Homo sapiens: one gene and its partner. The protein of the gene in region 2 interacts with the protein of the main gene of each other region in a biochemical or structural test. Each region holds a gene or a part of one and is shown on either strand. Other genes may lie near its edges.

Region 1 (7,047 bases), on a different chromosome or scaffold from region 2:
GTACCCGTAGGGCTCTCCAGGATGCCATTCACCTTCTGAACGGAGTTCGGAGCAAGGGTTACGGGGAAGCCAGGAAGAGGCGAGGCCACACAAGCTGCCCTGAGACAAGCTTCGGCAGCCAGCGGGCAGCTCTTTGCAGATGCAGAGGCCACTGCCAGGTGGCGAGAGCCCTGTGGGACCGCGGAGAAGTCCACAGGCAAGTCCCACTCTTGCCCTAAAGGGCGTGAAGCAACTCAGCCGCCATTAGCAAACGATTTGCAGAACGTTACCCAAAACACGACACTATTTTTCAGCTTAAATAGTAAGATGACTAATTAGGTGTCAAGTCTCAAAATAGGAAACTGTTCTGCGTTTCTGGATCCAAACATTTATGCTGTCCTATCTGACGTCCTACATACAAGCTCTCAGACGGGAACCTGAGCAGGAAACTCGGGGAGGGGAAGGGTGTGAGCCGGGTACAAGAGGGCACCTCAAGGAACCCAGGAGAAGGCAACCTGCACCACTGCCACCTCCCTGCACCCCCGAGGTTCAAAGACCTTCCAAGTGAGGCTGGCCACCGGCTGCCCCTCTAATGGAAATGCTTCCTCCTGACCCGTGAATATCAGCTGCTCCTCAGAGAGGCCCCCAAGGCACTCCTAAGTCTGTCACCCTCAAGGACTGTAGGGAAAAGAGAGATCAGACTGTTACTGTGTCTATGTAGAAAGGGAAGACATAACACACTCCATTTTGACCTGTACCCTGAACAATTGCTTTGCCCTAAGATGCTGTTAATCTGTAACTTTGCCCCAGCCTTGAGCTCACAGAAACATGTGTTGTATGGAATCAAGGTTTAAGGGATCTAGAGCTGTGCAGAACGTGCCTTGTTAACAATATGTTTACAGGCAGTATGCTTGGTAAAAGTCATCGCCATTCTCCAGTCTCGATAAACCAGGGGCACGATGCACTGCGGAAAGCCGCAGGGACCTCTGCCCTGGAAAGCCGGGTATTGCCCAAGGTTTCTCTCCATGTGATAGTCTGAAATATGGCCTCGTGGGATGGGAAAGACCTGACAGTCCCCCAGCCCAACACCCGTGAAGGGTCTGTGCTGAGGATTAGTAAAAGAGGAAAGCCTCTTGCAGTCGAGATAGAGGAAGGCCACTGTCTCCTGCCTGCCCCTGGGAACTGAATGTTTCGGTATAAAACCCGATTGTACATTTGTTCAATTCTGAGATAGGAGAAAAGCCGCCCTGTGGCAGGAGGCGAGACATATTGGCAGCAATGCTGCTCTGTTACTCTTTACTCCACCGAGATGTTTGGGTGGAGAAAAGCATAAAACTAGCCTACGTGCACATCCAGGCATAGTACCTTCCCTTGAACTTATTTGTGACCCAGATTCCTTTGCTCACGTTTTCTTGCTGACCTTCTCCCCACTATCACCTTGCTGTCCTGCCGCATTCCTCTTGCTGAGATAGTGAAAATAGTAATTAATGAATACTGAGGAAACTCAGAGACTGGTGCCGGTGCAGGTCCTCTGTATGCTGAGCGCCGGTCCCCTGGGCCCACTTTTCTCTCTATACTTTGTCTCTGTGTCTTATTCATTTTCTCAGTCTCTCGTCCCGCCTGATGAGAAATACCCACAGGTGTGGAGGGGCCGGCCCCCTTCAAAGGACGATCGTTTTTACTTGTCAATCCTCTCTCTGACCCCACCTGGAACACCAGCCCTTTTTATGACAGACGCTGCCTCTGGCCCGGAGGGGCCTGGCTGGAATGGGCCGGGAGAGGGAAGCACACCCCGTCCTGGCTGAAGCTCCACCCACCCGCAGTCCTTTCCTCGGGGCCTGTGCTCTACCTGCTGCAGACATTCCAGGACCTTGGTCATGTACTCCTGTTGGCATTTGTAGGGCTGGAAAGGGAAGTCTACGGTCACACCATTCAGGACTATCTTGGGCATATCAGCCTGTTCTCAGAAGGGCACAGAGCGTGGCTGAGGGGCAGGCTATTCGGGTCTGTGCGAAAAAACCACTCCGAACATCTTAGGGTCTCGGGCACTCCTGGTAAGCGATGCGAGCATGTGCACTGGGACACAACGCTGTTCTCTTCGAGAATCCCTATGGCACAGACCTGGGAAAGACAGTAAGACTCTGTTTGTAGACAGCCTTTGTGGGTACCGGGCTACTTTCCCAGGCGTTTCCATCAGTCCCTCCTGCGGAGAGGGTTGGAGAGCAACCCTGGTATATCCCATCTCGAGGAGCTGGCGGGGCGAAGATGCGAAGTGGCTGGGCCTTGCCTTATCCTCCCGCCCCACAACTCCGTCCTTCTCTGGAAAAGACGCCCACAGTGCTGCAAGTTCCGCCTGCAGTAATTCCGCGACTTCCACAAGAGCGTGAGGGCTGAAGAGGCAAGCGGCACCCCTCCCGGCCTCACCAGGCGCAACGTCAGAGCGGAGGGTCTGAACCTCCGGCCCTGCCTCTCCAGCCCTCTGCCCTCCTGGCTGGCTGGAGTCCATTCCCCATCCGCCCGGGTGGGCAACCAGATGCAGCCAAAGTAGCGAAAGAGCATGCCGGGATGCCAACCCGTGCAGCCCTCAGCAAATCACTCAACTTCTCTAAGCCTCAATCCCGCCCGGGAACTGGGACTAACAGAACAGACGCGGACACACTGAATGTCGGCCCTTCCCTCCAGCCCCGGTCAAGGGCTCAGCCAACGCCGCGGCGCCAGCGCCACGAGCGCAGGAAACTACAGGTCCCAAAATGCAGCGCGGCCAATCCGCCGACCCGCGGCCCCGAGGGCGGCTTGGGGCCTGCCGGGAGCTGTAGTTTCGAAAAACCGCAACGCGCCTACGAGCCGCTCGGGTAAAAGAACCACTTGTAGGGTCACTGCGACTCACTGCTCACTTGTCTCCGCGGCGAACCTTCCAGAACCGGGGTCCCTCAGGAACTCAACCGACTCCAGTCGAGGGCCGCCACCCGTCCCCAGCTGTCAGCCAGCTCAGAGTTTTCGCGGGCAGAGGCGCGCAGTCGGCGCTGAGCCCACTGCACTTCCGCCCCCCACTTCCGGTCCGTTGCTTTGTGCTCCCGGCGGAAACTGTTCCCCCGCGGAGGGGGTCCGCCTGCTCTTCGGCTCCTCCAGGCCTACACGGCGTTTTGCGCGTTCTGTGTCCGGCTCCGCTGGCCAGTGAACCTCACTTCCATCGCCCACAGGCAGAAATCTGGGGTCCCGCCCGTCTCCTCCCTTGATGTCATTCCCCCACCAGGGTCTGCGTTCCACTACCGCCTCTCTAGGCCGAGCCACCACCATTGCCCGGAGAGCTGCACGGGCCTCCTCCCCAGAGGCATCTTTTTACTGCTCGAGTGTGAGCCGACCGCTTTCCTGAAAATTTGAAAACGGCTGCGCCTTGCCCAGGACCCGGCTCCTGAGAGCCCTGACCGCCCCCTCTCCTTCCTCTCCTGCGTTCCAGCTTCTGCTCGGCTCACTGTCCCGCAGTGGTCCCGGCGGGCCTCCCTGAGTCCCCAGCACCCGGCACTGGCTGGCAGCAGGGCTGACTCCAAGAGCGAGGCCCGCACCGTTCTGTGGGGTCAGCCCAGCGTCACGGATGTTTGTCTCAGGCGGCCCCAGCTCCCATGCCCCAGAAGGCCCCAGAAGGCCCCAGGAGGGAGTTGGCGCTGCGTGACCGCGCACGGCCGGCAGGCAGCACTTCTTCGTGGCTTCTTCATGGCTGTGTTTAATGTCCACTGACGGCACATGCGAATGCCATGCGTGCCCACGCTCCTGGGTGTGAGATAGTGCTCGGAGAAGCCCCAGCACTCACTGGCACCCAGCCCCATGTGCCTGTTGTGGTGAAGGAACTGCAGGCTGCCTATCTGAGACTCGGCAGGGAGTTGAAGATGAGGAGACCAGCCACACACACTCGTTGAATGAATGGGCACCAAGCACAAGTTTCAGTGCCCCCCATACATGCTGATATGGTTCGGCTCTGTGTCTCCACCCAAGTCTCACCTCGAATTGTAATCCCCACGTGTGGAGGGAGGGACCTGGAGGGAGGTGGTTGGATCATGCGGTCAGTTTCCTCCAGGCTGTTCTGACAGTGAGTGCTCAGGAGACCCGATGGTTTAAAAGTGGCAGTTTCCCCTTCTCTCTCTCTTTCTCCTGCCGCCATGTACGACCTGGGAACTGGGACTAACATAGACTTCACCTTCTGCCATGATTCTTTTTTCTTTGAGACAGAGTTTTGGCTTTTTGCCCAGGCTGGAGTGCAGTGGCACAATCTTGGCTCACTGCAACCTCCACCTCCTGGGTTCAAGTGATTCTCCTGCCTCAGCCTCTCAAGTAGCTGGGATTACAGGTGTGCACCACTAAGCCCGGCTAATTTTTTATATTTTTAGTAGAGATGGAGTTTGACCGTGTTGGCCAGGCAGGTCTTGAACTCCTGACCTCAGGTGATCCACCCGCCTCGGCCTCCCAAAGTGCTGGGATTACAGGCGTGAGCCACCGCGCCCAGCCAGATAAGTCCTCTCATTGTCCACACTTTCTGGGTGAGAAAGTGAGGCACAGAGCGTTGAGCAGATTGCCCAGAGCCTGCTCAGGAGCCAGGAGTTTACCTTTTGCAGCCACACATCTCATCTCCTGAGAGCAGTGGCCAGAAAAGGCTGTCCTGTGGACTGAGCTGAAGTCTGAGTCATCTGCTCCTTGCCAGCTGCTATAGGAGCGTGCTGGCCTGGGGTGGTCAGGAACTCCTGTACCCCTGCCCTCTTCCTCTAATTGCTGACGTACCCACAGCTCCAGCATACAGCAGGTGCTTGACAGATGTCTGTTGAATGACTGAGTGTCCTGCTGAGATATAGGGCTCCTTCTAGGAGCCAGAGTTAATTTCTTTCTTTCTTTTTTTTTTTTGAGACAGAGTCTTGCTCTGTCGCCCAGGCTGGAATAGAGTGGTGCGATCTCGGCTCCCTGCAACCTCCACCTCCTGGGTTCAAGCGATTCTCCTGCCTCAGCCTCCTGAGTAGCTGGGATTACAGGTGCATGCCACCACGCCCGGCTAATTTTTGTATTTTTAGTAGAGATGGGGTTTCATCATGTTGGTCAGGCTGGTCTTGAACTCCTGACCTCGTGATCTGCCCACCTCAGCCTCCCAAAGTGTTAAGATTACAGGTGTGGGCCACCACGCCCAGCCAAGCCAGAGTTAATTTCAAGAATGCAGAGGTCTGATAAAAGTCACACTTTATGAAAAACATTTTTTTTTTTGAGGTGGAGTCTTGATATTGTTGCCCAGGCTGGAGTGCAGTGGTGGGATCTCGGCTCACTGCAACCTCTGCCTCCTGGATTCAAGTGATTCTCCTGCTTCAGCCTCCAAAGTAGCTGAGATTACAGGCACCTGCCACCACACCTGGCTAATTTTTGTATTTTTAGGGTAGATGGGGTTTCACCATGTTGGCCAGGCTGGTCTCAAACTCCTGACCTCAGGTGATCTGCCCACCTCGGCCCCCCAAAGTGTTGGGATTACAGTTGTGAGCCACTGCACCCAGTCAAAACATTTTTTTAACTAGCACTAATGTGCATGTGAAAAACATCTTTGAAATGCTCGTGCACTTTCTGCATTTGATCTTGGTGAGAAGTCAAAATCTGCTCCAAGACCTGGCACTATATTGGGGCAAACAGTCAGTACAGCTATTGTGTGCCTGCCAGCATGCTGTCATTACTCCTATTGCGTGTGCCTGCCAGTGCACTGAGAGTCAGTACACCTATGGCATGTGCCTGCTAGTGTGCTGTCAGTACAGCTGTTGTGTATGCCTGCTAGCACGCTGACAGTCAGTATGGCTGACAGTCAGTACCCCATTGCGTGTGCCTGCCTAGGTGCTGACAGTCAGTACCCCTGTTGTGTGTTCCTGCTAGTGCACACTGTGCACATCTACTGTGTTCCTGGCACTATGCCACGGGCTTCCACACACCTGGTCCCTGTGCTCCAGATGAGGACACAGAGGCTCAGAGAGGGCCTGGCCAGAGTCACAATGAGTGTGAGGCATTGCGGTGCTCTGAGCCTGACTGGGTGGGTCCTACCCCACCCACATGAGAAGACTCTGGAGGTCCCAGAGAGGGCTACTTCTCTTGATCCCTAGCACCTGAGCTCCAGCACCCGGGGCTGGAGTCTGCCTGAAGGATGCTGACCATCCCCAACTGCTACTGTGGTGGCCAACAGGGAGGACACAGCTGCTGTGGTGGGCAGCTCTGTGTGCCTCTCTGCCCTTCTTCCTCCTTCGCAGAGCTGGCTTCCTAGGAATGGCCCAGGGGCCAACACCTCTGTGTGTATATTAGTTTGATATGGCTTCATAGCAAATCACCACAAAACCAACAGCTTAAAACAACTCTCATTCATTACCTCCTAATTCTTAGTAACCCAAGGCTGAAACCAAGTGGGCAGTTGGGCTCAGTTCTTGTGTGGAGGCCCTGGGGTCAAACCTGCCTCCAAGCCCATTCTCTTCTTGTTGGCAGAACTCACTTCCTTGCAGTTAAGGTCTTGTTGTCTTGCTGGCTGTTGGCTGGGAGCAGTTCTCAGATCCTTGCCACGTGGCCCCCTCATCTCAACAACAGAAAACCTTCTTTGGTTTGATCCCTCCGATTTCTTCAACCAGGCAAAGGAAACTGCTTTTAAAGGGCTCCTGTGATGAGGTCAGGGCCCGCCTGGTGATCCTCCAGTCTTAAGGGTACCTCTGGGCCACACAATGTCACATTCCTGGGCATCACCCCCACCAGACTCACAGTCCCGGGGATGATGCCGGCTTGCACGTCAGGGGTCAGGACTCTCCAGGCCACCCTAGGATGTGACTGGCCTTGGGTGCTCCCACCGCACTGCTAGAGCTGAGGCTTGCCCCTGGCTTTTGTGTTGCTGAGCCAGCCTCATGGCTCTGCAAGTCTCCTGAGGTTTTCAGGGTTTTGCTCCTGGCCCTATGACTTAGTTGCTTGTAGGGCAAAGCACTTTTCTCCCTGCCTCGGTGGCTTCATCCCTGCAATGGCAAAGACGCTCCGTTTGCCTACCAGGCTTTCCCTTTGGGAGTTATGAGGAGAGGGGGAGGC
Region 2 (7,022 bases):
TCTAAGAATGGGAAAAACACAGTCTAGCCATACAATGAGATACTGCTCAGCCATAAAAAGGAATGAAGCCTGCTCCATGCTACAACATGGATGAACCTCAAAAACAACATATTAAGTCAAAGAAGGCAGACACAAAAGGACAACTGTGCAATTTCAGAATCGGCAAATCCATCCAGACAGAATGTTGATTAGTGGTTGTCAGGGGAGAGAGGGGCAATAGGGAGTGGCTGCCAATGGGTGTGGGGATTCTTTTGGGGGTGATGAAAATAATCCAGAAGTGATTGTGGTGACAGTTGCCCAACTGTGTGAATATCCCAAAAGTAGTGATTTGTTCAGTTTAAATGGGTGAACTATATGTTCTGTGAATTGTATCTCAACGAAGTTATTTTTAAAAAGGGGTAGGTTGACAACAAAGCTGAGGTGCTGTTGTCATGGTAAGGTGTGGAGATCCGCACTCCAGCCCTGGGGTGCTTGGGGATTCTGGTCACATACACGGGAGAGGCGACGGCCCAAGCTGCCCCCACCTGTTCACATGCTGTTCCCTTCGGGTCACGTTCATGGCTGAGAGGTTCTTTTGACAAATCTGGCAGAAGAACAAACCCTTTTCCTCCAGGCTATCATCATGTGCCGATGCTCCTACCCGTGCAAACTCCTGCTGCAGGGTCAAGGCCACCGCAGCGTCGCTCTCTGGGGCAGGGGGCCCAAGCCCATACACTGTGGAGAAGCACCAAAGATCCGTGAGAATAAACTCCAAAGACAAGCTCACCCTCAGACCTCTGCTCTGTCAGCTCCTGCAGACCATGGGGAGCAGGTGGAACGCAAAGAAACCAGAACCCAGCTCCACTCTGCAGGCTGGTGACTTGGACACTGTCCAGTGAGACTGGGCACTAATCAGCACTCCGGGAACAGCCGTCTCCAACTTTAACATGGATATGCATTACCTGGGAAGCTTGTCGACACTCAGATTCAAATTCAAGGGGTCCAGGTGCAGCCTGAGACTCTCCGCATTTCTAGCAGCCTCCAGGCTTGGCGATGCTGGCAGCACAGGACCACTCTGAGTAGCAAGGACCTAAACTTTCCCACTTCTGCTGAAGTTGGCTACCTCGGGCATTGCAAGTTCACAAGGCTCATATTCCAACAAAGCTAGATGTTCTCTTCAAAACTCACCCTTTCCTGCTGACCTTTTACTGCCCATGATAAAACCAGGGCAGAGTGAAATGCCTTTGGCGTTTAAAAGGCAGCATCTCTTACTTAGCATCAGACTCAAGAATGGACTGATTCTGGTCTTGAGATGGCTCCCAGGGTGGCCCATCTGATATTGCTGGAGCAGACCCCTGTCACTCACAAGGGATATGCCCTGAACGCCTCATAAATCCCCAAGTTCTTCATGGCTGTGGCCTACCAGTGCCTGCCACTGAGGCCAGCAAAACAGCACACCTTCATTTTGGTGCCCTGTTTTGTTTGTTTGTTTGTTTTTGAGATGGAGTCTCACACTCTGTCGCCAGGCTGGAGTGCAACGACGCGATCTCAGCTCACTGCAACCTCTGCCTCCCGGGTCCAAGCGATTCTCCTGCCTCAGCCTCCTGAGTAGCTGGGATTACAGGTGCCCACCACACCTGGCTAATTTTTAGTAGAGACAGGGCTTCACCATGTTGGCCAGGGTGGTCCTGAATTCCTGACCTCAGGTGATCTGCCCGCCTTGGCCTCCCCAAAGTGCTGGGATTACAGGCGTGAGCCACCGCGTCCAGCCTGGTTTGGTTTCTTAACAAACAAATGGTTTATCTCTTTCTGAGCACTTGCTGGGTGTGATGTGAAGATACAGAGAGAACTGAGTCAAATGCTGGGCAGGGGCGGAGCTCACACCAGCTGGGTGCCTCCTCTGCAACTCACATGTGCGTCCAGGACTGATGCCTCGGCAGGACATCAAATCACTGCCTGCTGTGGACCCTGGGGTGGCCTGAGACTCCTCCGTGCTACTGCAGTGAAATCTGCAATGCAATGCCAAGATCCTGCATACTTATTAGCTGTAGGTCTGCCGATAATGGTTTCTTCCTATTTCTTTTCCTTTTGTATATTTTCATCAGAGATGAGAATCCATATTGTTTTGGGGATGGAGAACAGGAGCACCTGGCATTATTACGCTTATTGGGCCGGTGCCACACCAAGTACACAGCAGCTATGGGGCACTGTCGCCACCCTGTCTCACCTGCAGCCAATGAGCCTCTAATCTACTCAGAGTGGGGCAACCCAATGGTTAGAGGAAGGAGTTAACGATCCCATAAAGAAATAAATCCAGAAAGTGGGAAATCTTATAATACAATTAGCCTAGCCTCTTCAAAAACTCAGTGTCATAGGGCTGGGTGTGGTGGTTCACACCTGTAATCCTAGCACTTTGGGAGGCTGAGGAGGGCAGATCCCCTGAGCTCAGGAGTTCAAGACCAGCCTGGGCAACATGGTGAAACCCCATTTCTAGTAAAAATACAAAAAAATTAGCCGGGTGTGGTGGTGGGTGCTTGTAATCCCAGCTACTCAGGAGGCCGAGGCACGAGAATAGCTTGAACCTGGGAGGCAGAGGTTGCAGTGAACCGAGATTGTGCCACTGCACTCTAGCCAAGCCTCTGTCAAAAAAAAAAAAAAAAAAAGTCAGTGTCATGGAAAACAAAAGGAAATGGGGGACTATTCTAGAATCTAGACCTTAGGATACTGCTGAGCTACAGCAATATGCAGTGTGTGAACTTACTGAATCCTTGTTCAGAAAAAAAAGAAACCAGCTACAAAAAATAACCTTGAGACAACCAGGGAAATTTGAGTTTGAACTGGACGCCAGGCACTATTATGGAATTAAGCGTGCTAATGGTATTGTGGTTATGCAGCAGAATCTAGGGGTAAAGGATCCTAATGTCTATAATTTACCTTCAGATAATATGGAAGAAAAATATGTACGCTTGGCTAGGCACGGTGGCTCACGTCTGTAATCCCAGCACTTTGGGAGACTGAGGTGGACAGATCACAAGGTCAGGAGTTCCAGAACAGCCTGGCCGGCATGGTGAAACCCCAACTCTACTAAAAATACAAAAATTAGCTGGACGTGGTGGTGCATGCCTGTAGTCCCAGCTTCCTGGAAGCTGAGGCAGGAGAATGGCTTGAACCCAGGAGGTGGAGTTTGCAGTGAGCCGAGATTGCGCCACTGCACCCCAACCTGGGAGACAGACCAAGACTCCATCTCAAAAAAAAAAAAAAATGTATATTTATAAAGACATAAACAAATGGCCAAATGTTAACATTTGTTAAATCTAGATTGAGGTATAGGGGATTAGGGGATTCATTGTAATTTTTTTTTTTTTTTTTTTGAGACAGGGTCTCACTCTGTTGCCCTGGAGTGCAATGATGCAATCACAGCTCACTGCAGCTCAACGTCCTGGGCTCAAGCAATCCTCCCACCTCAGCCTCCCGAGTAGCTGGGACTACAGTTGTGCACCATCATGCCCAGCTAATTAAAAAAAAATTTTTTTTTGAGTCAGAGTCTTGCTCTGTTGCCCAGGCTGGAGTGCAGTGGTGCAATCTCGGCTCACTGCAAGCTCTGTCTCCCAGGTTCACGCCATTCTCCTGCCTCAGCCTCCCGAGTAGCTGGGACTACAGGCACCCACCACCATACCTTGCTAATTTTTTGTATTTTTCATAGAGATGGGGTTTCACTGTGTTAGCCAGGATGGTCTCAATCTCCTGACCTTGTGATCTGCGCACCTCGGCCTCCCAAAGTGCTGGCATTACAGGCGTGAGCCACCACGCCTGGCCCCTAAAATTTTTTTGTAGAGATGGGGGTCTCACTATGTTGTCCAGGCTGGTCTCGAACTTGTGACCTCAAGTAGTCCTCCTGCCTTGGCCTCCCAAAGTTTTGGGATTATAGGCATGAGCCATCATGCCTGGCTTCATTGTAATTAAAACAACAACAACAAAAAAACCTTTTCTGAAAGGAAGAGTTCTTTGTGAATACTGAGGGTTATCTTTTTAAAAGGAAAAAACTGAAAGGGAAAGCTTTCATAATAAAAAGTCATAATTTTTAAAAAAAGGAGGCCAGGCACAGTGGCTCACGCCTGTAATCCCAGCACTTTGGGAGGCCAAGGCGGGTGGATCACGAGGTCAGGAGATCGAGACCATCCTGGCTAACAAGGTGAAACCTTGTCTCTACTAAAAATACAAAAAATTAGCCAGGCGTGGTGGTGGGAGCCTGTAGTCCCAGCTACTCGGGAGGCTGAGGCAGGAGAATGGCGTGAACCTGGGAGGTGGAGCTTGCAGTGAGCTAATATCGTGCCACTGCACTCCAGCCTGGGTGACGGAGCGAGACTCCATCTCAAAAAAAAAAAAAAAAAAAAAAAAGGAAGAGGGCCAGGTGCAATGGTTCACGCCTGTAATCCCAGCACTTTGGGGAGCTGAGGTAGGCAGATCACTTGAGGTCAGGAGTTCGAGACCAGCCTGGCCAACTTGGCGAAACCCTGTCTCTACTAAAAATACAAAAATTGGCCAGGTGTGGTGGCACACGTCTGTAATCCCACTGGCTGGGGCAAGATAATTGCTTGAACCTGGGAGGCGGAGGTTGCAGTGAGCTGAGATCATGTCACTGCACTCCAGCCTGGGTGACAGAGCAAGGCTCTGTCTCAGAAAAAAAAACAAAACGGTACCTTATCAAGGAAGCTAGGTGGGAAATGATCCCAGAGACTCTTCATTCTCTGGCTGGATCCAGTGAAGTGGCAAAGGTAAAACATCAAGCAGAGAGCCTATCCACAGAAGAAACTCAACAAATGCTGATTCCTTCCCGCCTCCCTTCCTCAGAGTTGTATTAACTTATCTCTGTGTGGAAGACAGAAACACACTCATCATACCATTCCCCGCCATCATCTCCTCTTGAGGATCCTTTGGGACATTTTCTTCCCGCGCAGCCTCGAGGGAGCACTCTTCTGAAGCGTGTCTCAAACGCTCGGGGTCTGCTCTCTTGAACTGCTGCATTCGCTGTAGGACCAATTGTGCTGTGCGGGGTTTGGAGGGACTTGGCACTGCTGTTGTCAAACAGGAAGGAGGAGGCTGGGAGTCGCTGTTGGGCACATTCTCTGGCAAGGAGGAAAATATTCACAACCATCTGTTGTAGCTGGAGAAATAAAAGACTTTTCTACCAGATACAGGTTAGACGCAAGTTTCAAGAGTCCTTTATCAACTAGTTTAGGTTTGACTCACAAATGTGAAGAGGACTGGTTGCTTGTTGGTAACCTCTTTGTTTATGGCAATATAGACATAAATATCAATAACAGGAGGGGAATGGGATGTGACTGCTAATGAGCATGGGGTTTATTTTTAGGATGATAAAACTGTTCTAACGTTAGGTAGTGGTGGTGGTTGGACAAGTCTGTGAATATACTAAAAACCACTGAACCATACCCTTTTAAATGGTGAATTTTATGGAATATCAATTATACCCCAATAAAGCTATTATTAAAGAAATATTAATGACAAAGGTTTATGTCCTAGATCAGTTCTTCTTTAACTTGGGATCCACGGATGATCTTCAGTGGGGATCCATGAACCCCATGAAGTTGTGTGCCAGTTTTGCAGATACGCGCATGGATACGTGTTTTGGGGGAACCATGCATAGATTTCATCCGACTGGCAAAGAGCACGAGAGACCAGTAAAGTTGGTGAGGCAACACTGCTGATGCCTTCCAGTAGTCTATGCGACCTGAGACTCTACCACCACTCTACTGAGAGGTTATTAAGATCAGGAAGTGAGGGCAAAGGAAATTTAGAAACAGAACTCAGGAGCTCAGAGAGCCCATGGTGTATTATATATGCAAGGGTAGTTTTCAGTTTTGCATGAAGAATGTGTAGTAAGCATATAGCTCAGTATACCAAGGGCAGCAGGGCAAGAAAACTGCTTTAAACAGTTAAAAAATTATCCAGGCACGGTGGTGGGTGCCTGTGGTCCCAGCTACTCGGGAGGCTGAGGCAGGGAGGACTGCTTGAACCTGGGAGGTCAAGGCTGCAGTAAGCTATGATAGCACCACTGCACTCCAGCCTGGGTGAGAGACCAAGATCCTGTCTCTAAAAACTAAGTAAGTAAATAAATCAATAACAATAACAAAGGAAAAGATTAAAAGGTCTTCAGAGAGAGAAAGAAAGAACCTGAAGATTCTCCTGGGACTTGAGCCCACACAGAGTCCTCATGCGGCCCTCTCAGCAGCCTATCCAAATTGGCTGGCCCAGTCCAACTTACCCACTTTGGAATAAATTCAAGAAAACAAGAGAAGCAGCATTATTGTGTTGTTTGTGTAACTCATGTCAATCATATAACAGAATTTCATAGGAAATTCTGAAAGAGCAGAGGACTCCAAACACAATCATGTGAAAAATTCACACGGGTTATGTTTTTCTTGACTGTTGTTTAAACCAGGAGTCAGCCGGGCGCAGTGGCTTACGCCTGTAATCCCAGCACTCTGAGAGGCTGAGGCACGAGGATTGCTTGAGTCCAGGAGTTCAAGACCAGCCTGGGCAACATAGTGAGACCTCCAGCTCTAAATTTTTTTTTAAGCTTAAAAATTAAAAAATAAAAACAAACCAAAAGTTAGCAAACTACGGTCATGTGGCTGGCTGCCTGTTTTTGTAAATAAAGTTTTACTGGCATATGGCCATGCCTGTTCATTTACATATTGTCCACGCCTGCTTTCTCACTATGACAGCAGAGTTGAGTAGTTGTGACAGAGTCTGTGTGGCCTACAAAGCCAAAATATTTACGATCTGGCCCTTTCCAGGAAGTTTTCCAGCCCCTGGTTTAAAAGAGTACAAATTACCTCTGGTTTTCTCTCTGGAAAGGTTTGGCGATGGTTCTTGCTGGTTACCCGTCTGGGTGTTTTGTGCTGTTTCCCGGAGCACAGGTGGATCTGGAGCAGAGGCAAGCACACCCCCCTCCCCATTCACAGAGTGGGCCGGTTCACTTGCTTGCCATTTGGTTACCCTTTGCTTTTTAGTCCTAGGGG

What was found. Proteins that work in one complex are often made in the same cells at the same time.
Region 1: the proteins of SLX4 (region 2) and RTEL1 form a complex in vitro, tested with the Homo sapiens proteins (one study listed by BioGRID).

Annotation. Positions count from the first base shown.
Region 1 is NC_000020.11:63,654,286-63,661,332, reverse strand, and holds the start of RTEL1 (regulator of telomere elongation helicase 1), read right to left. Parts: upstream 3,022-7,047; 5' UTR 2,867-3,021; intron 2,101-2,866; 5' UTR 1,931-2,100; coding exon 1,829-1,930; intron 36-1,828; coding exon 1-35. UniProt on the Homo sapiens protein: A probable ATP-dependent DNA helicase implicated in telomere-length regulation, DNA repair and the maintenance of genomic stability. Acts as an anti-recombinase to counteract toxic recombination and limit crossover during meiosis.
Region 2 is NC_000016.10:3,601,594-3,608,615, forward strand, and holds part of SLX4 (structure-specific endonuclease subunit SLX4), read right to left. Parts: coding exon 6,837-7,022; intron 5,106-6,836; coding exon 4,881-5,105; intron 715-4,880; coding exon 525-714; intron 1-524. UniProt on the Homo sapiens protein: Regulatory subunit that interacts with and increases the activity of different structure-specific endonucleases.